Homo sapiens: one gene and its partners. The protein of the gene in region 1 purifies or fractionates together with the protein of each later gene. This does not show direct contact. Each region holds a gene or a part of one and is shown in the gene's direction. Other genes may lie near its edges. The genes, in order: CETN1, PCID2, LHX4, DNAAF4, CCDC191, SPRYD3 and TTF2.

Region 1 (4,484 bases):
TTTGGGGTTTTCACTTGTTGTATTCAGAAGGTATTTTAGGACCAACCTTAATTGTCATGCATTCATTCAACGAATATTTATTAACCTACCTACTGTGTTGTATCCAGCACTGTTTTGTTTTGTTGTTGTTTGTTTTTTTGGGGACAGAATCTCACTCTGTTGCCTAGGGTGGAGTGCAGGGGCACAATATCTGCTCACTGCAACCTCCGCCTCCTGGGTTCAAGCGATTCCCGTGCCTCATACTCCCAAGTAGCTGGGATTACAGTTGTGCGCAGCAACTCTCAGCTAATTTTCGTATTTTTCATAGAGACAGGGTTTCACCTTGTTGGCCAGGCTGGTCTTGAACTCCTGACCTCAGGTGATCCTCCCGCCTTGGCCTCCCAAATTACTGGGATTACAGGTGTGACCCACTGCACCCAGCCATAAAACTCTTTAACACAAACTCTTCAAAGTGACATCTTTTGTAACCTTCATAGGTTACAAAAGGTATTGATATATTAATAGATTGAGATTTGATTGCGGGGGGGCGGGGCAGGGGGAGAATGCTAAAAAAATAAGTCAGCTTTCTTTTCTGTAACTATTTAAAAGAATGCAAAGTAATTCTACAGGCAATTCCTTGGTGGGCTTATTTGGTAATTTTTTTTTTCTTTTCCATTTTCCTCTTGCTCTTTGGTTTGTAGGAGAACCGCTTTATTCCCAGGAGGCAATTTTGAGTCCCAACATGTCCTGCATCATCTCCTGTGCCCATTGCCAAAGGAAGGCGACCAGAGCGTGGGTTTCAGCACAGCTCTGATTGGATGATAAGCAAGGAGAGTAATGTGCTGCTAGGAGGTTAGAGAAAAGAAAATACTAGAATATACCAGAATGTAGTATTTCCACTTCCCTCCCTCCAAATCAAAAGCCTCATGAATGAAATTATGACCATTATTCAAGTGCAATTATACTGAGTATGTAAAATGGAAACACTGAAAGTAAATCATACATTTGGATATTACATTTCATATTTGAGAACATGCCAGAAACATTGTATTATTGTTGAGTGTAATGTCAGGAGACAAACTTCTACGCATTTTATACATAAATTTTTCCATTTTCTCTGTTTCCCATTTATGTCAAGTTGAACACATGGTATGACTTTTAATATTCTCTCTTCCTTCTCCTTCCCCACATTGAATGTCAAGTGATCACACTCAATCTTGATTATCCTAAATTTACCCTTAGGACCTGTCACCTCATTGGGTGTTGCCGCTAGAACAAGAGGGTTTTTTAAATGGTATAAAAAGGAGAGGCCCGGCTTGGTAGCTCATGCCTGTAATTCTAGCACTTTGGGAGGCTGGGGCGGGAAATCCCTTGATCCCAGGAGTTTCAGACCAGCCTGGGCAACATGGTGAGACTCTGTCTCTATAAAAAAAAAAATTTTTTTTTTTAATTTAGCTGGGTGTGGTGGCATGCCCTGTAGTCTCAGCTACTATGGAGGCTGAGGTGGGAGGATCACTTGATCCTGGAAGGTGGAGGCTGCAGTAAGCTGAGTGGCACCAGTGCACTCCTGTCAAAAGAGAGAGAGGAGAGAGAGAGAGAGAGAGAGGAAGAGTCCCTAAAGAAACCTATAAAACTGGGGTCTTATGGATGCTAGCACATATCTTGGAAAGAACTGCCAGCGCCAGTGGATTACAGAAGACAACTGTGGCTACAGGCTGTTCTTGCCAGCTCAGGCGTCAACTCGTGGAAACCGGTTAATGACCCGAGGGGACAGCGGATTCTCGCCTAAGCAAGATCCCGCAGATGGGAGGGCGTAGGAAGAGGTTCCCCGGGCCGGCTCCAGGCCCCAGCGGGCGTGGGCGTTGGCAGTGAGCGAGGGGTGGTCCCGCGCCGCGCCGGCGGGGGGCGCCCGAATGAGAGCGCGGGGCGGTGCCGTTGGGACCACGGCGGCCAGAGCGGCAGGATGGCTTCCGGCTTCAAGAAGCCCAGCGCTGCCTCCACCGGCCAAAAGAGAAAGGTGGCACCTAAGCCCGAGCTCACTGAGGATCAGAAGCAAGAAGTTCGGGAAGCATTTGACCTCTTCGACGTGGACGGAAGTGGGACCATCGACGCGAAGGAGCTGAAGGTGGCCATGAGAGCGCTGGGCTTCGAACCCAGGAAGGAAGAGATGAAGAAAATGATCTCCGAGGTGGACAGGGAAGGCACGGGGAAGATCAGCTTCAATGACTTCCTGGCCGTGATGACGCAGAAGATGTCCGAGAAGGACACCAAAGAAGAAATCCTGAAGGCCTTCAGGCTCTTTGATGACGATGAGACCGGGAAGATCTCGTTCAAAAACCTGAAGCGTGTGGCCAACGAGCTGGGGGAGAACCTCACGGATGAGGAGCTGCAGGAGATGATCGACGAAGCTGATCGGGATGGGGACGGCGAAGTGAACGAGGAGGAGTTCCTTCGGATCATGAAGAAGACCAGCCTTTACTGAAGTCGGTTCAGAAGCTAAAGTGACTCTCTGGGTTGCCTGCTTCCATTTTGTGAAACCTTAGAGGACAGCGGCTGCCTGTCCCTTCTTCACCCCCTCACCCCCATAATTTGTCTAGATCTATTTCCATATCTCTAGTTCAATAATAGAATTTGAAAGATGCTTGTAATGTGAGTTTTGGGTTTTAATTCTCAAGAGTCAACCTGGAGCACATGAGGTTAAACAAAGGGCCCTGAAGTTTGAGTGCGCCCTCCATTTGCCCTGTGCTGAACTTGCTGTTCATCTGTTGATCTGGAGGCAGGACAGCTTCTGGGACACACAAAAATGTGGTTCCCTTTGTCACTTCTTTGGTGGTCTTAAATTATCTTGCTTCATATATCATTCCTTAAATTCCAGTCATTGTTCCAGCATAATGAGATGGAATCTGCCAGTAGATTTGCCTAGCCTGTCCACTTAGCTGAATACCAGTTTGAAGGAAAACAGGGTGGCCACTTACAAACTTACGGAGCTCAGGACAGATAATCTTATAAAGAATAGACTTGCTTGGGTGGTAGTACGTTGTGCAATTTTGACTATTCACTGGCTTTATACCTGCAAATGATTCTTCGTTCATGTGTAAATTGTCCACCATGGGTTTATCTAGGGCTAGTATGTATACCTGGGCTACAGAATAAAAATAAAATCTAATACTGGCCCAAGCAAAGTATAATTTGCTTAAGAGGTTACGCTAACAAACGATTTTGAGTAAATATTTACAAATGTAGGATCTTAGTTTAGGAAATTATAACAAATACCTTAATATAACATTTTAAGCTACTTATAGTCCTTGGAAATAGCAACAAATATCTTAGTTATTGGACTATTATAACCTTAGTCATCTTATTACTGCTTGATTATGAGACACTCTCCCTGCTAATCCTTAGAACATCTTGGTTCTTGGTACTTGACTTTTAGCCCCTCTGACATATAGTTGATGTCAGAGTGTCTGGCATTTCAGTAGTGCTCTATTTTACAAATCCCAGTAAACTGCTCCACTGTGGCTTGTTTATGTGTTAATACTGCTTGTTTTCTGTTATAAATTATTTTTTGCTTTGGAGTAAGATATCATCATTTTGCATAGCTACAAATCTGAAGTTAAAGAAAATTTTAAAAATGTAATTGTGGGAAAATAACAAATAGATCTGCTGAGATGGAGGCTTTGACTAATGTTTTAATAACAGGCAACAAAACAAAGAGGCAGGATATTTTGGTCACAACTAAACCTAAATTAAATCCTCATACAAAGCCCCATTAAGATAAATGCTCAAATTCTGGGAACATTTCACTTGCTTTGCCAGCAATTTTACCCTTCAGAGGGTGTGGATCTAATCAGGGGAACAAACTACCCTGGGCTTAATTCTCATTAACAGGGACTAATTTGTCAAAGCGGCAGTACTAGCTGAAGTGATGGGTATGGAAGCATTCACTGTGAGGATTTTGCTGAGGTGCCTGGCACAGGGTAGGGGAACTCACCCAGGCTGCAAGATGCTAACAGTTCAGGTTCAAGGTCTTAGTGTGGACTAAGGTGCAGTCAGGATGGGAACAGGTGCAACTTGGGCCAACATCAGTATGAAGGGCCTGATCTGAGGGCAGGGGAAGGAGGGGGCATTCTGGGAAGCAAGAGTTCCTGGTATCCTGTTGACCAGAGTCTTGGCCCAAGGATCAACGTATGAATTAAAGTAGAAATACCAGAAACAAAGAAAGTTGGCAGAAACTAGGAGAAGCAGAGTCTCAGCCAACTGGACTGGGCTCAGCCTTGGCTACTGGCCCGGCAGATGATAGAAGAGAAAACCAGGAACCCAGGCTGAAGCCCAGTGGTTGGGCTGGCCACACACCATGCATAGCCTTAAAGGGGTGGCCTAAGGGCATGGTCCGCTCCAAAAAAGGAAAGGGGGCCCCAGAATATTTCTGAATCCCACTCACTGCCAGGGAAGAACCTCTCAATTCACTCAATAGTGCATTCTCCTGCTTCTCAATAGGCTAATAC
Region 2 (4,405 bases), on another chromosome or scaffold:
TATCCTGGGAGCCCAGAACTGAAGCAGGGCTGAGGTCTCTGACAGGGTTGGGGACAGGGGTGTGGAGCACCGCATTGTGGGGCCCCAGGATGATCAGGAAGTCTGAGGCCTGCAGCCTGCCTGGACAGAAGGTGAGGAAGCAGACAACTGTCAGAGTTTTGGATAAGTGCGGACTCCATTCTGGATAGTAGCCCTGGGTGTCCGTGTTCTTCCCACCTCTGGGGATGGAATCTTGGCCCACGTAGCCCCTCACACTTGTTTACTTTTTTGCCCTGCAGGGCTCTGCCTGTCATGTATGCAGTAGCGCTTGACCTTCGAGTGTTTGCCAATAATGTAAGTTTAATTTGCTGTCATTATTATTTTAAAACTAAAACTTGGTGACTATCTGTTGTTTAATTTCATGTCATTCTTCCCAGAAGTTTTGAGGAGCAAATTGGAGTTGAGATGTGTCTGGTATAGGGAGCAAAAGAAAGATATTGACTATTCTTTCTGGGTTAACACCAACAGATTTATATAAACATTTGCTCAGATTTCCACACTGTTCATATAGAGGGAGAGGTTCCATTTTGTGGTTAACCATTTATGGTATGTGTTATTTTTATGAAGTGAGTGGAACAACAACAAATGAGCTTATTCTGCATCTCTTCTACCTTTAAGATGTGGCCTGCTCCCCCACCAAAAAGAATTCAGCTTCATATAGATTTGGGCAGTAGGAGGGGGCTTCCCTGGGGTGAAGGGAGATCCTGGGTTTTATGGAGGCGACGTCCCCATGGGGACCCACGGAAGTCCCCATTATGGAGCAGCATTTGTCAACCTTTTGGTTTTAGGACGACCCCTTTACAGTTTTAGAAATGATTGTTGACTTCAGTTCCAGTCAGGATGCAATGGATTTCACCCTATTGTGCCTGCTAGAAACAGTTAAAACCCTGGGAGTTGTCAGGCCGGCATGGCTATGGGAGGTGGAGAGAAGAGGGGGATGGGGCTCAGAGTCACGTGTAGGGAGTCTCCAGGTTTCCTTTTTGTCTCCTGTCTGTCCTGGACTGGGCGCGTTAGAAACCTGAAGCCTTTCACCATCAGGCAGAGACAAAAAGCCCCAAGGAAACCAGGAGGCTGGGAAGACAGTCCAATCCAGCAAGACAGAACTCTGACCGTCACTGCCTCACTCCAGTGCCAGGCGCAAAGAAGTCAGCAGGTCCGTCCCACCCCATCTGCAAAGTGGTGCGGACTGGGGGTGGCCCAGGACCTCCACCCTGGGCTAGCAGTAATGAGGAGCTAGTCCCCCTCCCCACCAGGTGGATGTCAGAGGCTAAGCAGGGGACCTAGACCTCCCCGACTCAGTGGCTAAGGGGATGCACCTGTTTCTCTGCTTGCATGGTGAGGCCTGCTAAACAAGATAAATAAAGTCCATAGTCTCGTCAGGTAGTGCCTCAAATGTCCGGGATCTAATCGACACTGATTACCAGGAAAATCTCAACTTTCAGAGATTTCAAATGAGAAAAAACATTCAGCAGAAGACACCAAGGCTGAGATTGTACAAATGTTGGAATTATGTGACAAGAGTTTTAAACAGCCCTCTTGATTCAGCAAGCAATTTAGAACATGCTTGAAACAAATGAAAACATTTAAAGTCTCAACAAGGAAATAGGCGATATAAAGAAGAACCAAATGGAAATTTTAGAACTGAAAAGTATACTGAAGACCTCAGAAAGCTTTTATTTTTGTTATATCTATTTATATTTACTGTATTAGAAATTTTAATTAGAAAAGATTTTAAAATATTCATTTTAAAGCAACAATAATAAACCTTTTACATGTAACATAACTGACTTTTTAAATAAAAAATAACTATATTTCCAAAACAAAATACTAAGAAAAGTAGTGTCACATCACTTTTGACCTCTTTGATGTCTAGTTCAGCAGAGGCAATCTGGTCCCCTTGCCTGCTTCTGCACTTACTCTGTTGCAGTACACTGTTTTGAGTAAAGTGTTTCTCTGCCTGATGGTGAAAGGCTACATCACAAAGTTGTAGATGGAAAAGAGAGGAATATTCTCATAGGCTTTCCAGACCATTGAGATAATTCTTTGACTCTATATAGGAAAACTCCAAGAGGCAGTTTTTTTTTTTTAAAAAGGTTAGTTACAATGTGGCTTCTGAAGTGTACCAATAAACTTTTTCTACCTTTACACTGAAATCCACTGGTCTGCCTAAAGCACTGAATGGATTTCGTAATATCTTGTGTTAGTCATGTCTTAGTCCATTTGGGCTGCTATAAGAAAATACTATAAACTGGGTTGGCTTGTAACCAACAAGCATTTATGTCTCATAGTTCTGGAGGCAGGGAGGTCCAGATCAAGTCAGGGAGGTCCAGATCAAGTCAGGCAGGGAGGTCCAGATCAAGTTGAGTTTCTGATGAAGAGGGCCGCTTCCTGGCTCATAGCATCTTGCTGTGTCTGCACATGGTAGATGGGGCAAGGGATCTCTCTTTCCCATTCATGACAGCTTCACCTTCATGACCTCATCACCTTCCAAAGGCCTCTCTTCCAAACACCGTCACTTTGAGGGTTAGGATTTCAGCATGAGTTTTGGAGGGGACACAAGCATTCAGACCATAGCAGACCATTTGGAGTATATTAGCTTACTGAGCCATGCAGCACCTCCCAAGTGCTGATATACCACTGTTAAAAACCCAACCCCCAAACCCCTACCTTCCTTAACATCTCCAGGGGCCTCATCAGAAAAGCCTTGGAGTAAGGAAAAGCTGCTAAGCTCACAGTAGTTCATAAAAGTTTTCCAGAATTCTGGTTTTTCTTGAAAGCACAAATGTTGTCATTGGCAACGAGTACCATCAGTTGTTTGCCTGGAAGTGACAGATTTGTTCTATTCGTTTTGGAGAATATGGTCAGCCAGATGCCCAAGCCTGGGTAGCTGTGTCTGCCTGTCTTCTGTTCTGCAAGAAGCAGCTAGTTCAGCTCACAGCTCAGACAGCTGCCCAGAGCTTTTCTGTAAACAGCCATGAGACACCCGTGTGCAACAGAAGTGCTGTATGCTTCTCATTTCATCACAAAGAATATAAAAAACGTGTGCTCAAGGACCAAGATTTAAGAAAATTCATATTTACTGCATTATCAAGGACATTTTATTTATTTATTTAGAGATGGTCTTGCTCTGTCACCCAAGCTGAAGTGCAATGGTGCAGTCATAGCTCACTGCAGCCTTGAGTTCCTGGGCTGAAGCCTCCCACCTCAGCCTCCTGAGTAGCTGGGACTACAGGTCTACGCCATGATACCGGGCTAATTTAAAATTTTTTAATTAAGACAGAGTCTTGCCATATTGCCCAGGCTGGTCTCAAACTCCTGGGCTCAAGTGATTCTCCCACCTCAGCCTCCCGAAAGTGCTGGGATTACAGGTGTGAACCACTGTGCTTGGCTCATCGAGGACATTTTTTAAAGGAAACTAATTTTACTGGTTTGTTGATTGACTGATTGATTGCAGAGTGTCTGGTGTTTAAGAACGTGGTGATTACTTGCGTAGTTTGGTGCCGGTGGGAGCACTCCAGCATTTTACCTATTGCTGTTTTTGCACCATCAGTGCAAACGTTAATACAGTAAAAAAAGACCATAATGGCTTAGTGTTGTTGTGAATATAGTTTGAGCTGTGGGTCATCTGCAAGCCTGTTGCAGGCCTCGGGTTTGTGGAGAACACAAGTGGCAGAAACAGACTCTTTCTTCTTTAACCAAGGCCATCCTCCCAAATGCGAGGGAAAAGTCAAACTCAGTGATGACTTTAATATTTGTTAAACGTTTTTATTTCAAGTGTTTTGACTAGCCAACTTCAGGGACTGAAGAGAGAGCTTAGTTGCTTAGTAACATATGCAGTGCAGGTTTGAAAAATTGGTGACTGACTTAACTTGAAATAATTGAAGAAAGATTTGGTTTGTGAAAGAATTGGAGTAATACAGACTTCTCAATTTTTAAAAATATTATAGTACATGCTAGCTGATTTCTCCAGGATCTTTCGGGACTTTGAGTCTTAATTGTACCCATTTTTTGCTTCAAGAAATAAATGTTTTGGCTGGGCACAATGGCTCATGCCTGTAATCCCAACACTTCCGGAGGCCAGGATGGGAGGATTACTTGGAGTCAGAAGTTCAGGACCAGCCAGAGCAACAAAGTGAGACCCTGTCTCTACAAAAAAAAAAGAAAAAAATATTAAAATAAATTTTAAAAAAACAAAACCCAAAACTAGCCAGGCATGGTAGTACCTGGTTCCATGGTTCCAGCTCCTCAGGAGGCTGAGATGGGAAGATCAGTGGAGCCCAGGAGGTTGAGGCTGCAGTGAGGTGTGATTGTGCCACTGCAGTCCAGCCTGGACGACACAGCAAGATCTTGCTTCGGAAAAATGAAA
Region 3 (4,405 bases), on another chromosome or scaffold:
CACATATTATACAGATCTCATCAATAATGGAGAAACTGGTTTTTTGTTCATTGAACACAGTATAAAATAAGGGGATTGTGGTGGTGAGGAAGCAGAGGGGATTCATAAGGGCCCTTTAGGTGAGCCAGCTGGAGCTGGGTTTGGCTTTGGTCCATGGCAGGAGTGGGCAGGGCTTCCTGTCTCTTTGAGGACCTTCCCTCCCACCACCCCCACAGCTCTGGCCTTTCAGGGTGGACAGAGGCCTTTGACCTCCTTCCTCCAGAGACCTGGGGCCTCTGCAAACCCATCCCAAGGCTCTTTGCCTGCAATGTACTAATCTGCTCTGGTTTCTTAAAACTCACTCCATGCTATTGCCTTGAAGTCAATTGTGATGTCATGGGAGATTAGGGCAACTTGTCAGGGATGAACCATCACAGCAGATGGACTCAGAGATACCAAGACACCTTTGGAAGTCTAGTGCCGTTCATCAGAGATACTAAGATGGCACGACCTCCCCGGCCTGCAGCTGGTTCTCATCAGAGGCCTCATTTGGACTCTGAGCACTCTCAGCTCAGCATCTCCTGATGTTGTGGGTGGTTCAAGAGACAAGAGAAACAGATGTAGATTGGTCAGAATCTGGCTGGGGAGGTGGGAATGACATTGTGGTGCTCACAGTTTTATCGAGGAATATTTGCACCACAGCAGACCTCTGCAGGATGATGGAAGATGCCGGACTTGCTGTCAGAAGCTGGCTGGGCATCCCCCCACACAGGGAGATCTCCTGGCAAGTTGTAGAACTGGCTGACCCTCGGCTTCTCAGCTGTCTATGGAGGATCATAGCATCTGCCACGTAGGGCTGTTTTCCTGAGGTTTAAATAGGATGAGGCTTGTGAAATGGGATGTGAAATAAGAGACTGACGTGGAGGAGAAGTGCAAACAGGGAGGTGAGGTGTGCTTGAGGTTTTAAAGCAGCGGAATGTTACACAGTATTTCTGGCCTGTTCCCCGGGTCCTTTCCTGACCCCACCCTGGCTGTGAGCAAGGCAGGGCTCCTCTGTCCTGGGCAATCGGTGATCCTTGGAGCAGCGGGGAGTTCTGTCCACTGCAGAATGCCTGGCTGTCTTTTCAGGTTGTTTTAATTCCTCCTTGCTACTCTCAGCCCTCCTGCAGGCTTACAGTTCCCTCCCATTAGCTAAACAAAGGATCTCAGAGCAGTTACTTGCACCTTAGTGTGAATGATTTTGTTCACTTGTTCCGTCTCCCTGGATATTTGCATTTTCAATATAATGAGGTTGCGTTTTATGCCAGGGACAAGTTCTAGGAGACCCTGCATCATTCAAAACTAACATATTTTAAGACTAATTTTCCTGTAGGAATTAATGTAGAGTGTGTGGGGGGGGGGGTGGTATATTCTGAGAGCACATAAATCCATAACCAGTGAAGTGTATCTTTGCCTTAATGCTACTTTTTATTTTCTCAGCATTATCTTGAATACCTTGCAGAACGCTCTCTCCTAAATTAACAGCCCAGGGTATCATGGGCTCCCTTGGCCTTCCTCATAGCGTTTTGTCACATTTAACTTCCGTACCAAAGTTATTGATTTTTGGGTACATTTTTCAGCACGAGCACTGCCACTGCTACTTAATGAATACTTGGATGACATTGTTATGGGATATAAAAAAGATTTTAAATTATAATAACAGTGAATGTTAAAATAACAGCATATTAGTCCCCATCATTGCAAGAAGAAAATCCTGTGTGTGTAGCAGTGCCGAACCAGCGGGCCACCAACCAGGATGACGGGTCTATCCCAGTGGCGCTACCATCTGGCTGTGGTGAAAAGAATTTATAATTCCGTAGGCCAAGCTATTTTGAAATTAAGTGATTCTCGAGAAATTAAAACATTTTTGGTGATTGCATTATTTCACATTTTTTAATATAAAGATTGTACACAAGTGCACTATTTCCCATTTGCATAATTCAAAGTTGCATCAGACACTCCCGTGTAGACTATAAATATGCACAGAAGGGACAGACTCCTCAGAATGAAAAGGAAGGCATTTTGGAGGTTCCCCTTTGTCTTTTGGAATGACTCTCTAAGTAGTGTAGTCTCTGTGGCAGGGGCTCCGGAATCCCTACCCTTCGGGTTCAGGGCTTCAGGGAGGGAGTTGGGCCACAGTAGTTCCGGGATGACAGTGGCCACGTGAGAGAAGAAAACAGCCCGAGGAGAAGGGAAGGCACGGGTGTGTCCCCCCTCACTGTGTACACACATGTCCTGGCTGCACAGCTGCTTCATTCCTCTAGTGCCTCCCAAGATCAGGGCAGGCCGTGTTGCCCTCTGGACTTCCAAGGGGGAAGTGAGTTACTGGCCCAAGTCACTCACTCATCAAGAACACTGAAGCCAGGTCTGCTGACTCCAGGGAGAGCCTTGTAGATTGTGAGGACCGAATGCATATAAAGTCCTTAGTCAACACCAGCACATGGTAGGTGCTAACACATGTTGGCTACTATTGTTTCTAAGAGAGGGTTTTCTTGAATGGAAAGAAAGGAGAAAAGACAGAGAGGAAGTCAGGAATGTCACAGAGACACCTTCTGGGGCACACAGGTGAGCAAGCACAGAGAGCAGAGCTGCCCAGGCCAGCTGCTGACTTTATTCCGTGTGTCCTCCAGGGGCACTGTGGAGAAAAGGGCAGTATGCCTAAGTGCTGGGAGAGGAAACAAACCTTTACATTCACCTGTGCTTCCGAACACACGCACGCGCCTCTCTCTGTACCTGACTTTGAATGGAACAAACCAGACTTTAACTAACAGGAACTTGAGCTTGTTCACTCAAAATCTGTCTAGGACTTTGTGTTGATCAGTCAGTGTGTTGCCCAGAACATTCCTTAGACTAGTTTTCTCAAAAAATTTTGACTACAATCCACAGTAAAACTCATTTTACATTTCATCTCAGTACACATATTTATACAATAAAAACTAAAGTTTAATGAAATGATCTTGCCATTCCATCCCATTCTCTTCATCTGATTTCCTGTTTTAGTTTTGATCCACTAAGGTGACTTTACAGCCCACGAGTGGGTTCTGACCTATAGTTTAGAAACCTGCTTAGACACTGTTGGGTGTGCAAGCTCACCCCTGGCTGTGAGCCCAGCGACGCCAGGGCAAAGGTGACATGGCTGTGGGGAAATGGGAGACTCCTGATGAGACAGAGGGGAGGGCATCTGGGGCGACTTTGAACATGACTTCAACCTGGCTGTTCACCTTCACAGCTCTGGCAAGAACTCATGAGGATGTGTGAGCAGAGTGTTTGTCATGACAGGGACGTGTGGAATTGGGTACATTCAATCTGATGAGACTTCTGTGCAGCTGGGCTGGCAGGGGAGGGTTGAGGCAGGGAGCTGAGCAGAGAAAGGACTGCTGTCCTCACTTTTCAGTGGCTTGGGAAGGCCCGTGGTGCAGGAGTCAGTGCCATGAGAGTGGGGACCTCTCCACTCTGATGTCCCCTGTGCCTCGCGCTGTCCTGCCTACAGCAGGCAGGCTTAGGTGCAGAAAGGATGGAAGGGAGGGTGTGGGAGGAGGCGCAGCTGCTGCAGATAGGCCGAAGCCAGTAAGCAGTGGTTTTTCCTTGCAGATGACTCAGAGGCTGGAGCTAAGCGGCCCCGGACCACCATCACAGCCAAGCAGCTGGAGACATTAAAGAATGCATACAAGAACTCCCCCAAGCCTGCCCGGCACGTGAGGGAGCAGCTGTCCTCAGAGACAGGCCTGGACATGAGGGTCGTACAGGTGAGATGCCAGCACTCCTGTGCCCTCCGGGGATCCCAGGCCCGGGACAGGGGTGGAAGGTATCCTGAGTGACATCAGCTCACGGGTGGTTGGGCTCAGGGCTTGACCCCAGGGCTTTTGCCAGAACTGAAGACAGAGTTCTGAGGCCCACCTGGGGAGAGGGGGTGGGGCGCATCGCACTCCCAGACCTGTGCTCCATTCAGGCTTCAGTCTGCTTCCAGCCGCCCGCCTAGGGGGTCCTGGGGGCTTTGGGTTTGTGGTGGACGCCCCCTGAGTATGTCCCTTGTGCTTGTGTGGCAGGTTTGGTTTCAGAACAGAAGGGCCAAAGAGAAACGCCTGAAGAAGGATGCAGGGCGGCACCGCTGGGGGCAGTTCTATAAGAGCGTCAAGAGGAGCCGGGGCAGCAGCAAGCAGGAGAAGGAGAGCTCTGCAGAGGACTGTGGGGTTAGTGACAGTGAGCTGAGCTTCCGAGGTGAGCAGGGCTGGAGGGGCCAGGCCGAGGCCTTAGGAAAGTCCCCTGGGAATCTGTAATCCCTGGCACTCAGGAGGGATCTTTCTTGAGGCCTTGGCAACTCCCTCCTGAACACAGGCTTTTCCTTAAGACTTGCAGTGAAGGGTGGGGGAAATGGTAGTGGCCCTTT
Region 4 (3,619 bases), on another chromosome or scaffold:
CCGGATTCAAGTGATTCTCCTGCCTCAGCCTCCTGAGTAGCTGGGATTACAGGTGCCCGCTACCACATCTGGCTAGTTTAAGTATTTTTAGTAGAGACAGGGTTTTGCCATGTTGGCCAGGCTGGCCTCAAGCTCCTGACTTTGGGTGATCTGCCCACCTCAGCCTCCGAAAGTGCTGGAATTACAGGCGTGAGCCACCAGGCCCACCCGAGGCTTATTTTAAAATTAGAATTTTTACCATGTTTTTGCTTGTTTGTTTTTTGTTTTTGTTTTTTTTGAGACGGATTCTCGCTCTGTCACCCAGGCTGGAGTTCAGTGGCGCGATCTCGGCTCTCTGCAAGCTCTGCCTCCCTGGTTCAAGCAATTCTCCCGCCTCAGCCTCCCAAGTAGCTAGGACTACAGGTGTGCACCACCACAGCCAGATAATTTTTGTATTTTTTTTTAGTAGAGACGGGGTTTCGCCATGTTGGCCAGGCTGGTCTCAAAATCCTGACTTCAGGTGATCCACCTACCTCGGCCTCCCCAAGTGTTGGGATTACAGGCGTGAGCCACCATGCCCAGCCTTTTGCTTGTTTAAATTAAGAAACTATAACTTTCTTGTAATAATTATATATATTTTGTAAGGCACTGGAATTATTGATGCCACCTGTTACAGACAATGCTAATGCAAGAATGAAGGCACATGTACGACGTGGAACAGCATTCTGTCAACTAGAATTGTATGTAGAAGGTAAGGAATTGATAGAAATGGTTTAAGTCCCAAGTTATACTCTGAAAAAAATGTCATTGGAATTATTTAAGATCGTGACTTTTAAGGACTCCATTTTTAAATATTTTTAGCATTTAATTTATTCTTAGTAATGTCTGCAGTATATCTGACAATACATGATTTCTAAATTATATTTAAAAAATTCATTGTAGAAGAGAATTAAAATAAGTGTAAACAACAAGTTTCAGTCTAGAAAAATGCTATATTAGCTGGGTGCAGATGCTCATGCCTGTAATCCCAGCACTTTGGGAGGCAGAGGCGGGTGGATCACCTGAGGTCGGGAGTTCGAGACCAGCCTGACCAACATGGAGAAACCCTCTACTAAAAACACAAAATTAGCTTGGCGTAGTGGCACATGCCTGTAATCCCAGCTACTTGGGAGGCTAAGGCAGGAGAATCCCTTGAACCCGGGAGGCGGAGATTGTGGTGAGCCGAGATCATGTCATTGCACTCCAGCCTGGGCAACAACAGCGAAACTCCTTCTCAAAAAAAAAAAAAATGCTATATTACCAGACAACTCTTCATAGAAACGTGTGATAAATGCTGGGTGTGGTGCTTCACGCCTATAATCCCAGGAACTGGGGAGGCTGAGGTGGAAGGATGGCTTGAGGCCAGGAGTTTGAGACCAGCTTGGGCAACATAGTGAGACCCTGTCTCTTAAAAAAAAAAAATACATGATAGGCTGGGTGTGGTGGCTTATGCCTGTAATCTCAGCACTTTGGGAGGCCGAAGCAGGTGGATCACAAGGTCAGGAGATCAAGACCATCCGGGCTAACACGGTGAAACCCCGTCTCTACTAAAAATACAAAAACAAAATTAGCCAGGTGTGGTGGCGGGCGCCTGTAGTCCCAGCTACTCAGGAGACTGAGGCCAGAGAATGGCGTGAACCCGGAAGGCAGAGCTTGCAGTGAGCCAAGATCACGCCACTGCGCTACAGCCTGGGTGACAGAGCAAGACTCTGTCTCCAAAAAAAAAAAAAAAAAGATAAAATATATAAATGATTTGAGATATCATGGATATTTATCTCAGAGAGCTTCTTCGGTCATCCCTGTATGTATGTATGTATTTGTGTGTGTGTGTGTGTGTGTGTGTGTGTGTATACACACACCTAAGCTCGGAAATAACTGATCCACCATAGTGCATGCACATTGCTTATATTTGTTAGATTGTATTAAGTTCTGTAATTTAGCTCTATGTATACAGAAAATATAGCATTTATTTTATTTTATTTTAGATAGATTTAGGGGCCGGGCACGGTGGCTCACACCTGTAATCCCAGCACTTTGGGAGGCCAAGGTGGGTGGATCATGAGGTCAGGAGATCGAGGCCCTACTGGCTAACACGGTGAAACCCCATCTCTACTAAAAATACAAAAAATTAGCCAGGTGTGGTGGCAGGTGCCTGTAGTCCCAGCTACTCAGGAGGCTGAGGCAGAAGAATGGTGTGAACCCAGGAGGCAGAGCTTGCAGTGAGCCGAGATCATGCCACTGCACTCCCGCCTGGGCAACAGAAGGAGACTCTGTCTCAAAAAAAAAAGATGGGAATCTAATTTAAAACTTGGTACTTGTTCTGAACCATGCTACTAGTGATTATTTTTATTTTAAACAACTATTGTCTAGATAAAAGAAGTGCTAATAAAATATTTATTGTATTAATCATCATTGCTATATAAACACAGGCCTACAGGATTATGAAGCGGCACTTAAGATTGATCCATCCAACAAAATTGTACAAATTGATGCTGAGAAGATTCGGAATGTAATTCAAGGAACAGAACTAAAATCTTAATGACTATTAGAAGTAACTAAGTATTGTTATAAGTTTTTTAAAAACAACTGGAGGCATCTTTGTACATATTATGGCCAGTTGTACAGAATCGCTTTCTGTTTAGTACTTTAGTTCTGTTGAGGGCAAAATATTATAAATCTATAGAAAATAAACTGTTTGACTTGAATCATTTCTGAATAAGTAAATCTAAATAAGAATCTATTTTAATTCCTTATTTCTTCATATTAATACATATGTATACTTTTTTGTGTTACTGAATTAAGCTTGCCCTTGTAACAAAATATGTTTTGGTATAGTTACCAGGACACTTACTGATTAATTTTTAACAAGGTAGAATTTTAAAATAAAAGATTTATAAATAACTTTTGTTTGTATTAATATACCATTTAATTGACTGAATGGTTGACTTTGGTATAATAAATATTGACAGGTTGTCCGTTAGTTTCCAACTGCACAGAACCTTATTTTTTTGTTTAATACTTCTCTAATGCTTGTTGTTCAAGATTAGACCAGTTCAGCCTAGTATAAAACAACTGTTTAGAAAACCTTATATTCAACTTCATTTATAGGCTGTGCACCTGAAAACTGATCATATTTCATAACACTATCTGGTGAAGATAAATTTTTGAGTGAAATAGTTTTCTAGTACCTCCAAGTAGACAAGGGGGAGAAAAGACAGCAAAGTGTAAGATATTAACCTGGAATATTATGGTATTGGTATTGGACTGCACCATCATTTGTGTTGTATCACTGGGATTATGCAAGTGTTAAGCACAATAGCACAGCTTCCCTTTTGCTTGTAGTTACTGTAATTCTCTAATTAAATTTTAAAGGTTTTTTTTTTTTTTTGAGACGGAGGAAGTCTCCCTTTGTTGCCCAGGCTGGAGTGCAATGGCGCGATCTTGGCTCACTGCAAGCTCTGCCTCCTGGGTTCAGGCCATTCTCCTGCCTTAGCCTCCCGAGTAGATGGGACTACAGGCGCCTGCCACCACGCCTGACTAATTTTTTGCATTTTTAGTAGAGATGGGGTTTCACCATGTTAGCCAGGATGGTCTCAATCTC
Region 5 (4,405 bases), on another chromosome or scaffold:
TTATATATTGCAAACATTTTTTCCATTTTGTCATTTGTCTTTTTGGTTTAGTTATGGTGTTTGGTATTATACACAGTTGTTTAGTTTTTATAAAGTCAATCCTGTCGGCTTCTTCTTTTATCACTGCTCTTGTCATGTTTAGAAAACCTTGTGGAGAAGAGCTTCTACCCCCTCACCTCCACCCTCCACATAATGCTGTTAAGTACTTAATTCAGACATGTGAAATTAAATTGTGCACTAGAGGGTCCCCAGCCTTGCTTTTTACCCTGATTATTGCTAGCAAGTAGGCTAGTTTTAATTTAAGCTTATTCTCTGAGCAAGGGGGGATCAGGAAGATGCTTGTTGGGACTTATGTGTAACATTTTGGTCCCTTCCCCTAGGCAATGTATCTACCTTTATGGCAGATAATTTTGTCTCCATTGAGACCCAAGACAGACTTCTATCTTAAGAAAGAGCTGTATGGAACCTTTTACCTTACAAAGTGCCACTGTTCTTAAATGAAAAAAAAAAAAAAGTCAGCAGAAAGTATTTTTTACCTGTGCAAAACAGAAAAATTACTATATATATGTAGTAATTTATATATAGTAATATATATAGTAATTTATATATATAGTAATATATATAGTAATTTATATATATAGTAATATATATATAGTAATTTATATATATTTAGACTCAAGGGAACAAAAGACTCCAAATCTCTGAAATCAAGAACAAAAGACTTTATCAAGAAAGGACAGTATTGTTAAAAATGGAGCAAATGATAATAGAGGGCTACAATAGACCCTGTAGAGACTAAGTAAACTAATCTTTTTCCAGCGTGTACAGCAAAACATGACCAAGTGAAAATATAAAATCTTTAGTTAGATGCTCATTAATTATACAGTCATAGGAACTCATGTACTAAGAACACACAAACTGTACCTTGAATTTTTCCAAAATTATCAGTTAGCTAATAGGTGATTTTCTCTAATTAAGTCAGACCATTCACTCCTGCTCTATTAAGTACTATCTGTACCACTAAGCTTTTCCTTCATGTTCTTTATTTTCATGTTAAAAAGTTACCATGATCCAAAAGAAACCCTGTCGCTTTACTCAGGGCTTTGACACAGTCTTGCTAGGTTAATAAGGTGTCATTACCACCAAGTTTAAAAGAACCTAAAACATATACCCTGCTTGATATAAATTGCTTAAGCAGGTGTTCTCATGAATAAGTGTTCACTGACATTACTGAAATAAAAGGTTACTTTTAAAAGTGTTTAACATGTCAGAGTTTCCATATATCACATCTTTCATTTCAGTTGAGTCTATGGAAAGCATTTCTATAATCGTGAAAAATATTTTTGAGTCCCTAAGGATGGGGTCCTGTTAGAACAAGAAGCTTCTGATATTTAGATAGCTCATAGCATTTTTCTCTTTAAGCCATTGCAGATGGCAGAATCAAAAACTTAGACCTTAGAACATGGACTCAAACCATTCTAGAAGAGACACTTTAATATGACATTATTTTGGCCAAGATAGCTGTTTCTAAATAAAAATTCTTGTTTCCTTCCCCTCTGTATAGAACTTGTAATTGAGTATGGTACCTCAGTCTATTAAATGGGATTTATGTAATAAAGCTTTGAAAACTAGTGATATGCTAATACAAAATATTATTAGGTAACATTATTCTTATGTAATGCAGATATTTGCCCAGTGATCCTGAGCTTCCAAATATTTCCCACCCATAGATAGTTTGTAATGCAGATATTTGCCCAGTGATCCTGAGCTTCCAAATATTTCCCACCCATAGATAGTTCAGGAATAGCTGGAAACGGTTAGCTAGGCTTTAACGGGACCTTGATGCTGAAATAACTAAATATCCTATACTATGGCATATGATTAATTTACTAGTGTCAGGAGAGGCATTGAAAGAAAAGAGATATATTATTCATTTGTAAAGATATTCTTTGGTTTTCAGACATTCTCGAGAAAGAATATATCCTTTGCCACAACATCTTCAAATTTCCACTAAAATTCAGAGTCAATTTATGCATATTAAATTCATGTTTTTTATATATAAAATATATATATTTATATATATATATATATATATATATATATATCTGGAGTAACCTTGCCTAATTCACAAATGAACTGTCCAAATTAGAAATTTATAAGAGAAGATTTTTGCTATTACGAATGTCCTGGCCCATGGCAATGGTTCATACAGCTGTAGCCACTCTCCCAGTTTTCTTTTTTTTTGAGCCAGGGTCTCGCTGTGTTGCCCAGGCTGGAGTTCAGTAGCACAATCTCAGCCCACTGCAACCTCCACTTCCCAGGTTCAAGCGATTCTCCTGCATCAGCCTCCTGAGTAGCTGGGATTACAGGTGCGTACCACCATGCCTGGCCAACTTTTGTACCTTTAGTAGAGACAGGGTTTCACCATGTTGGCCAGGCTGATCTCAATCTCCTGACCTTAAGTCATCTGCCCATCTCGGCCTCCCAACGTGCTGGGATTACAGGCATGAGCCACCACAGCCGGCCACTCTCCCAGTTTTCATGGTGAGCAGCAATGCATGTTTTAAGAGTGGTGGCCTCTGAGGTAGCCAGGCCAGGAGCACAGACCACCTTTACCTGCAATACATGGCAGTTGTGCCATTAAACAAAACAATACTGACCTCATAAATGTTGGATTTCATCAGCACAGTCCTTTAAATAGTTGAGCTATAACATGTTTCTCTCTCTCAGGAGACTGCTGTGCCCCCTTTGTGGGAAAAGCCTCCCTTGGGAAGCAGTGGTTGTATGCTCAGTCCTCCCCTGGGAAGAACAACAACAGGCAACTTGCAGGGTTCCCTTCAGAATGTCTCTCTGAGTGCACCTGGCAATAAGCAGCACAAGACCCTGGGTGCTGAACCCTCTCAACAGCCTGGCAGCAACGAGACACTCAGAACTACCAGCCAGAAAGCAGAACCGCTTTGCTTGGGTCATTTCCACAACCGCCATGTCTTCCAGCAACAGCTGATTGAGAAGCAAAAGAAGAAACTTCAGGAACAGCAGAAAACAATTCTCGAGCTGAAGAAAAACCTGCAGCTGGCAGAGGCTCAGTGGGCAGCAGAGCATGCCTTAGCAGTCACAGAAGCACAGAGCCACCTGCTGTCAAAGCCCAGAGAAGAGGAACCAAGAACCTGCCAGATGCTTGTGAAGTATGTCTGTTCTATCAGAACTCGCTGGACTCATTTTAAGGGGTTTTTCACTTTGGGCTCCTGAGCTTCTTTGCCCTGCTTCTGAGCCCCATGATTGTTCCTTTTCCTTGATTTTGCACTCTCAAAGCAAAGAAGCCTAGTTATGACTAGTATATGACAGGCACAGATAGTCAAGGATGCCTGTAAGGATCCAGTTATACTGTTAGCATTTGGGTCACGGCTGCCTTTGAGGATCTCTGTTACTATGCCAGTTAAAGAGAAAAATGCTGTCTTGCTCTATTTCTGGGTTTCTAGCTATGTTAAGTGCTGAGAAGCCAAGTCAGACAACATCAGGTCCACATGGAGCAGCCCCTGGGCTGGCTTATTTCCTAGCTTAAATTTGTAGTTGTTAGGGATAAAACAAAACATCTTTGAGCCTCAAATAAGAGCCCAAGTTTCTCAAAAGCCACGTAAGATGGTTTCAGTTGTGCTTGAGACATACTCATTGCATGTGGTAAATGGTAGGATAAGATGTGGTGACACCTATGGATTTGAAGCATTAGGATGGGAGTCACAGTACCTGACTCACTGTGTAGACTCATGCCGATCACACAACCTTTCCATACCTCATTACACATATTTATGGAGTGGATATAATATGTAGTTATCTCAGAGAGTAGGGATTCATTAAGGTCTGTAAAAGGCTTTGAGCATCTCAGGTCAAAGGAGTTTGAAGGAAACTGGTTAGTAGTCTAAATTCCTTTCCTTTATTTTTTCCCTAGTTCACCTGTTGCTTCCCCTGGGACTGAAGGCAGAAGTGACTCCCGAAATTCTCTTTCTGGACTCAGAAGGAAACCAAAGCAATTGATGACACCGCATCCCATACTAAAAGGCAGGGCTGTCTCGGTGGTGGCCTTGGTGGTTGTTATCTTCTCTCCTAGAGTAGAATGTGTACACTGGGACTGAATTCTGGCAACTCTTGAGGTTTTGAGACTTGGCAGAACCTGACATCAAAAATCTCAGAATGGTAGACATGTGAGGAGTGGAGTACACCAGAGAGCCCCACTACTTTTTTCCTGCCCCTTTTGCCAACCTTTTTGGCATTCCCAGCCAACACACACACAAAAAAACATAGCTGAAAGGTATATCATTTTTCTGTAATTTGAGATTTGGATTGTGAAAAAAAAAGGAATAATTACACAAATGAGAAAACTCTGAGTAACTGCCAAGGACAAACACTG
Region 6 (4,405 bases), on another chromosome or scaffold:
GTGCACTGCACAGGGAAGGGCGATGCTCTTGACTCCAGAGGCCTTTCTTTTTCTTTTTTTTTTTTAAGACAGAGTCTCGCTCTGTCACCCAGGCTACAGTGCAGTGGCGTGATCTCAGCTCACTGCAACCTCCGCCTCCTGGGTTCAAGCGATTCTCCTGCCTCAGCTTCCCAAGTAGCTGGGATTACAGGCGTGCACCACCACATACGGCTGATTTTTTATATTTTTGGTAGAGACAGGGTTTCACCATGTTGGCCAGGCAGGTCTTGAACTCCTGACTTCAAGTGATCCACCCGCCCAGAGGCCTTTCTGAGTGGAGCAGTGTGTGCTGCTTCACCCTGCACTCACCTCTGCCTCTGTCACTGGGTGGCTCTGTCCTCATCCAGCAAGGAGGGGATCCAGCTGGGTAGGGGAAGGGATCACATCAGACACAGGAGGCTGCTGGGGTCTCAGAAGCTTCCTAGGTGCTTTGTTGAGAAGACTCCAGTGGGGTAACTGAGTCTTCTGCCACTGTCTCAGGGATTAGATCTAGTGAAGAGTGGCTGTTTCAGAGATAGTTGATTTCCTGTTTGGGGAAGGGCCATTCTATAGTGTACCCTGTCCACCAACTCCTGTATTTCCAGCCCCTTAGCTTGTGTGTGTTTCCTCCCTCTTTTCTGGCTTGAACCCCTTCCCTGACTCCTTCTGAGCCCATGCTCTCACAGAGTTCCACTGAAGGGGGAAGAAAGTAGTACTGTTTAACTAGAGGCAAGAAAGCTGAGGAGTGGGAACTGAATCACTGTCTTCCAATCGATGAAGGGCTTTGGTAAAGAGGATAGAGACCAGCCATTATTCTCCAGCTCCACTGAGGACAGAGCCAGAGGAAAAGGGCTGAAGCTGCAGCATGAGAGATTGAGGTTACACAGGGTTGTGAGACCTCTCTTAGGCAAGTAAGGGAGGCTCTACATTCTTTTCCTCCTGGAAATGAAGAAACCAGGCTTGCACTGGTCTGGTACGGGTTGGATTCCAGCTGGAGGCTGCGAGAGGAGTAGGGTGAGGTGACCTTAAGTATCTGGTTCTGATGTCTGCCGATGTACTGAAGTGCAGCCTGATGGATTCTCCTGTGTGCTGGCCCTTGCAGGGTAAGGGTGGGAGAAGCTGAGGCCCTCCCCCTACTCTTGGGCTAGGCTGCTAATGGAATTCCCCCCTCATTCCTCCTTCAGTTATCATGGAAACTCTGGTGAAGTTGGCTGCTACGTGGCTTCTCGACCCCTGACCAAGGACAGCAATTATTTTGAGGTGATCAAGGCAGTGGGTGGGCAGAGCAGGGGGTGAGCTTGGGGGTGAGATCATTAAGCCCCAAGAAGCTCCTTTACTAGATGTATGACCTGGGCCTTTTAATTTTCCATCAGGGCTGTCCTGTTGGCTGGGAAATAGGTGCAGGATAGCATGGCCCCTCATCTGAGAGATAGGTGCCCTGGAAACCTGTCACCCTGTCCCTTCTGCTCTCCTACCCCTTAGCTAGGTAGACTTTGACCCATATCCCAGACTTGACTCATGTCCCCTAACCCAAACCCACCATATAGGGACGTGAGTCCTATCTTTCTCCAAAGCTTTGGAGTAATTTTCTAAGTGAAATAGGCACCCACTCTCACCAATTGCCCCCTCTGAGTATCTTATCTTTTTTCCTGATTCCCATGTCCTTTTTCTTTTTGAGCCTCAGCGCCCTTTAATCTCTAAGTCCCCTTCCCCCACCCCCAGCAATTCATCCCATTTCCCAGCCCTGCTGACTGTGCCCTGCTTTCTTCTCTCCAGGTGTCTATTGTGGACAGTGGAGTCCGGGGCACCATTGCTGTGGGGCTGGTCCCTCAGTACTACAGCTTGGATCACCAGCCTGGCTGGTTGCCTGACTCTGTAGCCTACCATGCTGATGATGGCAAGTGAGTTGGCTCCTGTGCAACCCGGCCCTTTTCCTATGAATTTGGGAATCTTAGATCTGAAGAACTACCTTGGGCTGGCTTTTCCCATTGGGTGTTTCATAGACTTTTCTGGTCAGGACAGGGAAGTGGCCTGGCAGCACCCTTGAAGGCTTACAGACTAGAGGAGGGTGATGCTCACGCCAGGACGTAAGTGGGTACCATCACAGAATGACCAGGAGCAGCAAGATGAGGATGAGGCCTCTGCTGTCAGTGCTGGGGAGAAGTTGGGAGGCCAGGCTCGGGTCCTGTGTCTGTACTACTCTGTCTGTAGGCTGTACAATGGCCGAGCCAAGGGCCGCCAGTTTGGGTCAAAGTGCAACTCCGGGGACCGGATTGGCTGTGGCATTGAGCCTGTGTCCTTTGATGTGCAGACCGCCCAGATCTTCTTCACCAAAAATGGGAAGCGGGTGAGTGGGAAATAGTGGTGGGATTTACGTGGCTGAAATCTGCCCAAGGATTTGTGGGGAGTGATTAGGAAGAGTCTGCTGGCTGGGGCTTGCCCAGGGACCCTTGCACTGAGTTCCCATCTCCTCCAGTCCAGCCTCAGATTCTCCTGAAGTCTCTTGCGTGTAGGAGAAGATACTTCCCATGGCCAGAGGAAGCTGGGACATTGCCCAGATGACAGGCAGAGAGAGGCAAGTTAGTGGAGCAGAGGATGAGCAGGAATTGTGGGGAACAGAATTGGGTGATTTGGGGGAAGGTTTTGAGCAGATAAAAGAGAGGGGAAGATTATGGCCTGGCCATGTAAGCTGGAGGTCCTCTTTGGGTTTTGACTTGAGCACTTTTGGGGATATGTCCTTTCTGTGTCCTGTTTTCCTTGTTTCACGTCTCTTTCACTATCCTGTTCGTAGAGAGACTAGGCGTGGTGAGGAGATGGGACAGGAGCCAATAGTAGAGAGAGACACACAGCTCTCTCCCTTCTCTCCAACTCCATCTCCCACATTGGGAAATTGGTTTCTCAGGCCTTGGCCAAGGGGTCCTGCTGCCTTAGCATCTGCGCCTCGGCACTCTCCTGTCCAGCACACGTACTGAAAGTATTTGGCAGCAAGTCAGGAGACTTGTGTTTGTCTTCTAGCTCTGTACATACCTTGCTTAGCCAGGAGTACTTAGCACATTTGGAAACTTTTCTGCACCTCTGGGTTGCTTTTTTTTTTTTAATCTGTCAGTGTGTGTGATAATTATTGGTTGCATCATCTTTTTTTTTTTTTTTTTGAAATGGAGTCTCGCTCTGTCCCCCAGGCTGGAGTGCAGTGGCACCATCTCGGCTCACTGCAAGCTCCGCCTCCCGGGTTCACGCCATTCTCCTGCCTCAGCCTCCCGAGTAGCTGGGACTACAGGCGCCCGCCACCACGCCCGGCTAATTTTTTGTATTTTTAGTAGAGACGGGGTTTCACCGTGTTAGCCAGGATGGTTTCAATCTCCTGACCTTGTGATCCGCCCACCTCGGCCTCCCAAAGTGCTGGGATTACAGGCGTGAGCCACCACGCCCGGCTGGTTGCATCATCTTAAAAGTACCCTTGTGAGAATTAGGTGAGCTATGGAAAAGCAGGCCGGGTGGCAGCTCCGTCTTTCCCCCCACTGCAGGTGGGCTCTACCATCATGCCCATGTCCCCAGATGGACTGTTCCCAGCAGTGGGCATGCACTCCCTGGGTGAGGAGGTGCGGCTGCACCTCAACGCTGAGCTGGGCCGTGAGGACGACAGCGTCATGATGGTGGACAGTTACGAGGATGAATGGGGCCGGCTACATGATGTCAGAGTCTGTGGGACTGTAAGTAGCGGGTGGGAGGGTGGGAGGGGCTGGGTCGGAGGAGGCTGGGCAGAACACCTGTGGGCACATGGTCATGTCTGAATTGCTGGGAATGGGGAGTCGGGACAGTGTCCGTGTGGGGTTTGGCAAGATAGCCTAGGCTCTTGACATGAGTCCTTGAGTCCAGATCTGTGTTTTCTTTAGCACATGTTCTCTTTTCTTCACTTCCTCCTCTTCAGGGAACTCAGGTTCGCAGTTTGACCCTGGGAACAAGTAGTTCTGCTTTGCCTTTTTTGGTTCCTTCAGCTTCTGGTGTCTTCTACAGCCCTGCACAACTGCCTTTGAGGGGCTGGGGGTTGATCTGGAGGCAAAATGCCTGGCCCAGGCTTTTCATTCAAAGTGTTGTGGGGCAGGTGTGGTCAGAAGTCCACACATGTGGTGGAAGGTTCTTAGCCATCTTTTTTGAGGAAGTGTCAATGTCAGTTTCTATTGTCTTATCCCTGCATTTGATAGAGGATTAGAATGGAGGCAGATAAAGATTCAGTGAGCATCCTTACACCTCCAAACTTGCTTCATTTATCTTTTCCTCATACCTGCTTTAGTATGGATTTTAAGCTTCGTTGGGAAGCGTGTGGAGCTTGAGAAAGGGGAATTCTTCCTCCCCGGATTTTAAGTTTTGTTGGAAAATTCATGAACCT
Region 7 (3,533 bases), on another chromosome or scaffold:
TGGAGCTGCATATGTGTCTCCCCTCTTCCCTCCCTGGGGGTTAGGCTGGGTTTGTTTGGTTTTTTTTGTTTTGTCCTCATGAGGCTTAGCATCTAAGGGAGACAGGCATGAATTAACAGAAGTGGCATTCTGGTATCTGTCTCAGCCTCATATTCATTTTAGTGTAAATCAGTTTCGTCAAGTCTAGGTATGACAAGGTGGGTCTTTGCACCTTCTAGCGATGGGCAGCATCCCACAACACAGTGGTCTAATTGAGGTGCTGCACTATGAGTCCTGCCTGTGTTAACCAGCCTTCCTTCATGTCACAATACTGCTGCTGGATTTGCTTTTTACATCTGCCTATTGCACCTGACTTGGGCATGGATGATATGAGGTAATAAATGCTTTGAAAACCATGAAGGGCCACACAAGTGCTAGTGTTATTGCTGTGGGACAAGGTCTGGGAATATGAGAACCAGCAGCAGCATGGGTGCAGCTGAGAACCAGATGGTGAACATCTGTCTCCAAAGTGCAACATTCCTGAGCACCGGATTTATAAGGCATTTCTTACTCGACAGAATTGACTTCATGGAAGGTATGTAGTTTGACTTTGCCTTAGCCATGTTGATCAAATAGGAGTATTGTGCATGCCGCAGCTAGACAGAGTCCTGGGCCCTTTAAAAACCTTGTCAGTGACTCCCATTGCAGGCCCAGCGCAGTGGTTCACACCTGTAATCCCAGCATTTGGGAGGCTGAGGCAGGCAGATCACTTGAGGCCAAGAGTTCGAGACCAGACTGGCCAACATGGCAAAACCTCCTCTCTACTAAAAATACAAAAGTTAGCCAGGCGTGATGTTGGGTGCCTGTAATTGCAGCTACTCGGGAGGCTGAGGCAGGAGAATCACTTGAATCCAGGAGGCGGAGGTTACAGTGAGCTGAGATCATACCACTGCACTCCAGCCTGGGCCACAGAGAAAGAACGGTGATTCTTTCTAGCAGAAATTAGCAGAGTAAGTGTTTTTGGAACAATTGCTAATGAAAAGAAGGAAAAACAGAAAAAAAAAATTTTCTGTTTATGGGAGGTGACTTATTTCTCTATCAATCCTGTGAGTGATTTAGCATGGCAATTCATGAACACTGAGTTGTTTCCTTGCTCTGATTGTCTGTTGCTCAATGAAATGGCTTTTAGCAGGGCTCAAAGGTGAAGCCAGATTCTCCTGCACTAATAGGATAAGCATGGAGACACCAGTGTTCAGTGTGGCCTCTGGTTGTCTGAAATTTTGCTGTCAACTCTAATACCTTGAAAGAATTAGGTTTCCAAAGTGGGATATTGTGCTGCTGTTTGTGATATAGCATCTAGACTTAGGAAAGGGCAGGAACAATTTAAAAGCACATCTGTAGGCACAAAGAGAATTATAATAGAAATTCAGAATTCCTAGGCATATGACCTAGACTAAAATGTCTTCATAACTACAAATGAAATCAGGGTCATTTATAGTACAAACTACCACAGAAGTCAGTAGTTAGGGGATGGAGATAGATATGAAAAAAAAAAAAAGCAAACCCAGCCTAACTCCCAGGGAGGGAAGAGGGGCGACAGATATGCAGCTACACAATGTTTTTACTATCTTGAGTTCTTTTTACCCAGATTCCATAGCTAAATCCAGATGTATTAATAGGTAGAGACTACTTCAGAAAGGATGAGACTATTTTCTTGCTTAATTATCCACACAGTAATTCAGAAATGTATATTGAACACTTTTTATATGCCAGGCACTGCTGGGCACTGGAAATATAAAAGTAAGCAAAAATGAAAAACTATCCTGTCCTCCTGAGGCTTAGCATCTAAGGGAGACAGGCATTAGTCAACCCCGTGTGGCTGTGAATCAGCCATGATGCTGAGTGCTACAAGAGAGGACTGTGCGGCTGGGAGGGCTTATAACAGGATTTGACCTAGTTAGGGAAGATCTGAGGAAGTGATGAAAGAATGGAAATCAATATGTAAGAGCTCACAAGTCAGAGTGAGATGTTTCTTCCTATACTGCCTGCTTCTAATGAGCATCCACTTCATTGAACCACCTCTTCATTGAGCCAAACCTACCATACAGGGATACATTCTCTGGAGGAAAGTTGAGCAACTATTGCATTTGGGACATTAGAGTATGGGTGGGCTGACAGGTATGTGTATGTTTATTATCCAAGACAGCCAAGGTGTTTATCCTGTTACAACATCCCAGAGGACAGAGGCTCTTATTTGTGACTCTTTTTTCTTACCTGTAACACCAGAGGCATAACGTACATCATAATGCTGCATCTTGTTGACGCTTCAATGCTCACAATTCAAAGGTGATTTCTGAAGCACTTTGTTACACTGGGGACAGCTCCTAAATCCTCCCACTCTTTTTTTGCCTCACCTTGGAGTCTTGGGCTCTGTTGATCACTGACTCTGCCAGGTCTTTCAGCAGGCAAGACAGCTCAGTTAAATTGAGTTTGGACTCCACTGTAGTGCATGCATGAGACAGCACCCCCAATCCCCAACACCCACACACAAACTTTAAATATTTGTAACAGAATTGTTACCATTAATATTGCTTAAAGGCTAACACATTAGCCAGAACCTAGATGTCTTCTGGAAATTTTTTATTGCAATGTTACTTCATCTACATAAAGTTGTCCAATCACTGAAACCTCCAACTGAAATAAATGGTAAGCTTTTTGTTCTCAATTCTGAAATCAGATTCATTAAAAGGCACATGGGGATAGATGATATAATACAACAGGCTTCTTCATGGGAAGCAGTTCCCTAGATGTATGAGGTAATTGGAAAATTCAAGGCTGGTCTCTCAGGTGCATATAATTTATCCAACAGACTCGAGATAAGGCTGATTTTTTTTCCAAGTGGTATTTGTTTAAATGACAAATACTGAGGTTCGGGAGAAGGGAAGTCTGGCTTATAAAAACAGATACCAAGGAGATCCAAACTAAAAATTCTACCAATTAGATCTTTATTCACTGATCATAATATTAAGTCTCTACTATGTGCCAGGAACTGTCCTACATCGGGACAGTATGGTAGTTTAAAAATATCCCTGCCCTCATAGAGCTTACAATCTAATATGAGAGGACAGACAACAAACAGAATATATACATGTTGGCCTGTAATCCCAGCACTTCGGGAGGCTGAGATGGCCAGGAGTTTGAGACCAGCCTGGGCAACATGGCAAAACCCCATCTCTACAAAAAATGCAAAAAATTCACCAGGCATGGGGTCGGGGGGGTGGTGTGCCTATGGTTCCACCTACTCCAGGGGCTGAGGTGGGAGAATCACTTGAACCTCGGGAGGCAGAGGCTGCAGTGAGCCGAGATTGTGCCACTGCACTCCAGCCTGGGTAACAGAGAGAGAGAGACCCTGTCTCCAAAAAAAAAAACCACAAAACAAAACATATATATATGTGAGATGGTGATGAAACTGGGCAACTCTGGGGTGGGAAGTTGCTATTTTGTACAGGGTAGTTAGCTAATAGGGTGATTTTTGATACTGGAGCGAGAACTTG

What was found.
Region 2: the proteins of CETN1 (region 1) and PCID2 purify together in Homo sapiens (affinity purification with mass spectrometry; 2 studies listed by BioGRID and IntAct, with this or other methods). This does not show direct contact.
Region 3: the proteins of CETN1 (region 1) and LHX4 purify together in Homo sapiens (affinity purification with mass spectrometry; 2 studies listed by BioGRID and IntAct, with this or other methods). This does not show direct contact.
Region 4: the proteins of CETN1 (region 1) and DNAAF4 purify together in Homo sapiens (affinity purification with mass spectrometry; 2 studies listed by BioGRID and IntAct, with this or other methods). This does not show direct contact.
Region 5: the proteins of CETN1 (region 1) and CCDC191 purify together in Homo sapiens (affinity purification with mass spectrometry; 2 studies listed by BioGRID and IntAct, with this or other methods). This does not show direct contact.
Region 6: the proteins of CETN1 (region 1) and SPRYD3 purify together in Homo sapiens (co-immunoprecipitation; 3 studies listed by BioGRID and IntAct, with this or other methods). This does not show direct contact.
Region 7: the proteins of CETN1 (region 1) and TTF2 purify together in Homo sapiens (co-immunoprecipitation; 3 studies listed by BioGRID and IntAct, with this or other methods). This does not show direct contact.

The regions. Positions count from the first base shown.
Region 1 is NC_000018.10:578,467-582,950, forward strand, and holds CETN1 (centrin-1), read left to right. Parts: upstream 1-1,913; 5' UTR 1,914-1,942; coding exon 1,943-2,461; 3' UTR 2,462-3,648; downstream 3,649-4,484. UniProt on the Homo sapiens protein: Plays a fundamental role in microtubule-organizing center structure and function. Plays a role in sperm cilia formation.
Region 2 is NC_000013.11:113,190,999-113,195,403, reverse strand, and holds part of PCID2 (PCI domain-containing protein 2), read left to right. Parts: intron 1-278; coding exon 279-333; intron 334-4,405.
Region 3 is NC_000001.11:180,267,771-180,272,175, forward strand, and holds part of LHX4 (LIM/homeobox protein Lhx4), read left to right. Parts: intron 1-1,882; exon of another isoform or gene 1,883-3,609; coding exon 3,610-3,764; exon of another isoform or gene 3,765-4,064; coding exon 4,065-4,236; exon of another isoform or gene 4,237-4,405. UniProt on the Homo sapiens protein: May play a critical role in the development of respiratory control mechanisms and in the normal growth and maturation of the lung. Binds preferentially to methylated DNA.
Region 4 is NC_000015.10:55,429,608-55,433,226, reverse strand, and holds the end of DNAAF4 (dynein axonemal assembly factor 4), read left to right. Parts: intron 1-624; coding exon 625-730; intron 731-2,447; coding exon 2,448-2,557; 3' UTR 2,558-2,919; downstream 2,920-3,619.
Region 5 is NC_000003.12:114,004,288-114,008,692, reverse strand, and holds part of CCDC191 (coiled-coil domain-containing protein 191), read left to right. Parts: intron 1-2,730; coding exon 2,731-3,185; intron 3,186-3,946; coding exon 3,947-4,056; exon of another isoform or gene 4,057-4,306; intron 4,307-4,405.
Region 6 is NC_000012.12:53,072,609-53,077,013, reverse strand, and holds part of SPRYD3 (SPRY domain-containing protein 3), read left to right. Parts: intron 1-1,202; coding exon 1,203-1,278; intron 1,279-1,794; coding exon 1,795-1,919; intron 1,920-2,229; coding exon 2,230-2,365; intron 2,366-3,542; coding exon 3,543-3,728; intron 3,729-4,405.
Region 7 is NC_000001.11:117,104,750-117,108,282, forward strand, and holds the end of TTF2 (transcription termination factor 2), read left to right. Parts: 3' UTR 1-2,704; downstream 2,705-3,533. UniProt on the Homo sapiens protein: DsDNA-dependent ATPase which acts as a transcription termination factor by coupling ATP hydrolysis with removal of RNA polymerase II from the DNA template. May contribute to mitotic transcription repression. May also be involved in pre-mRNA splicing.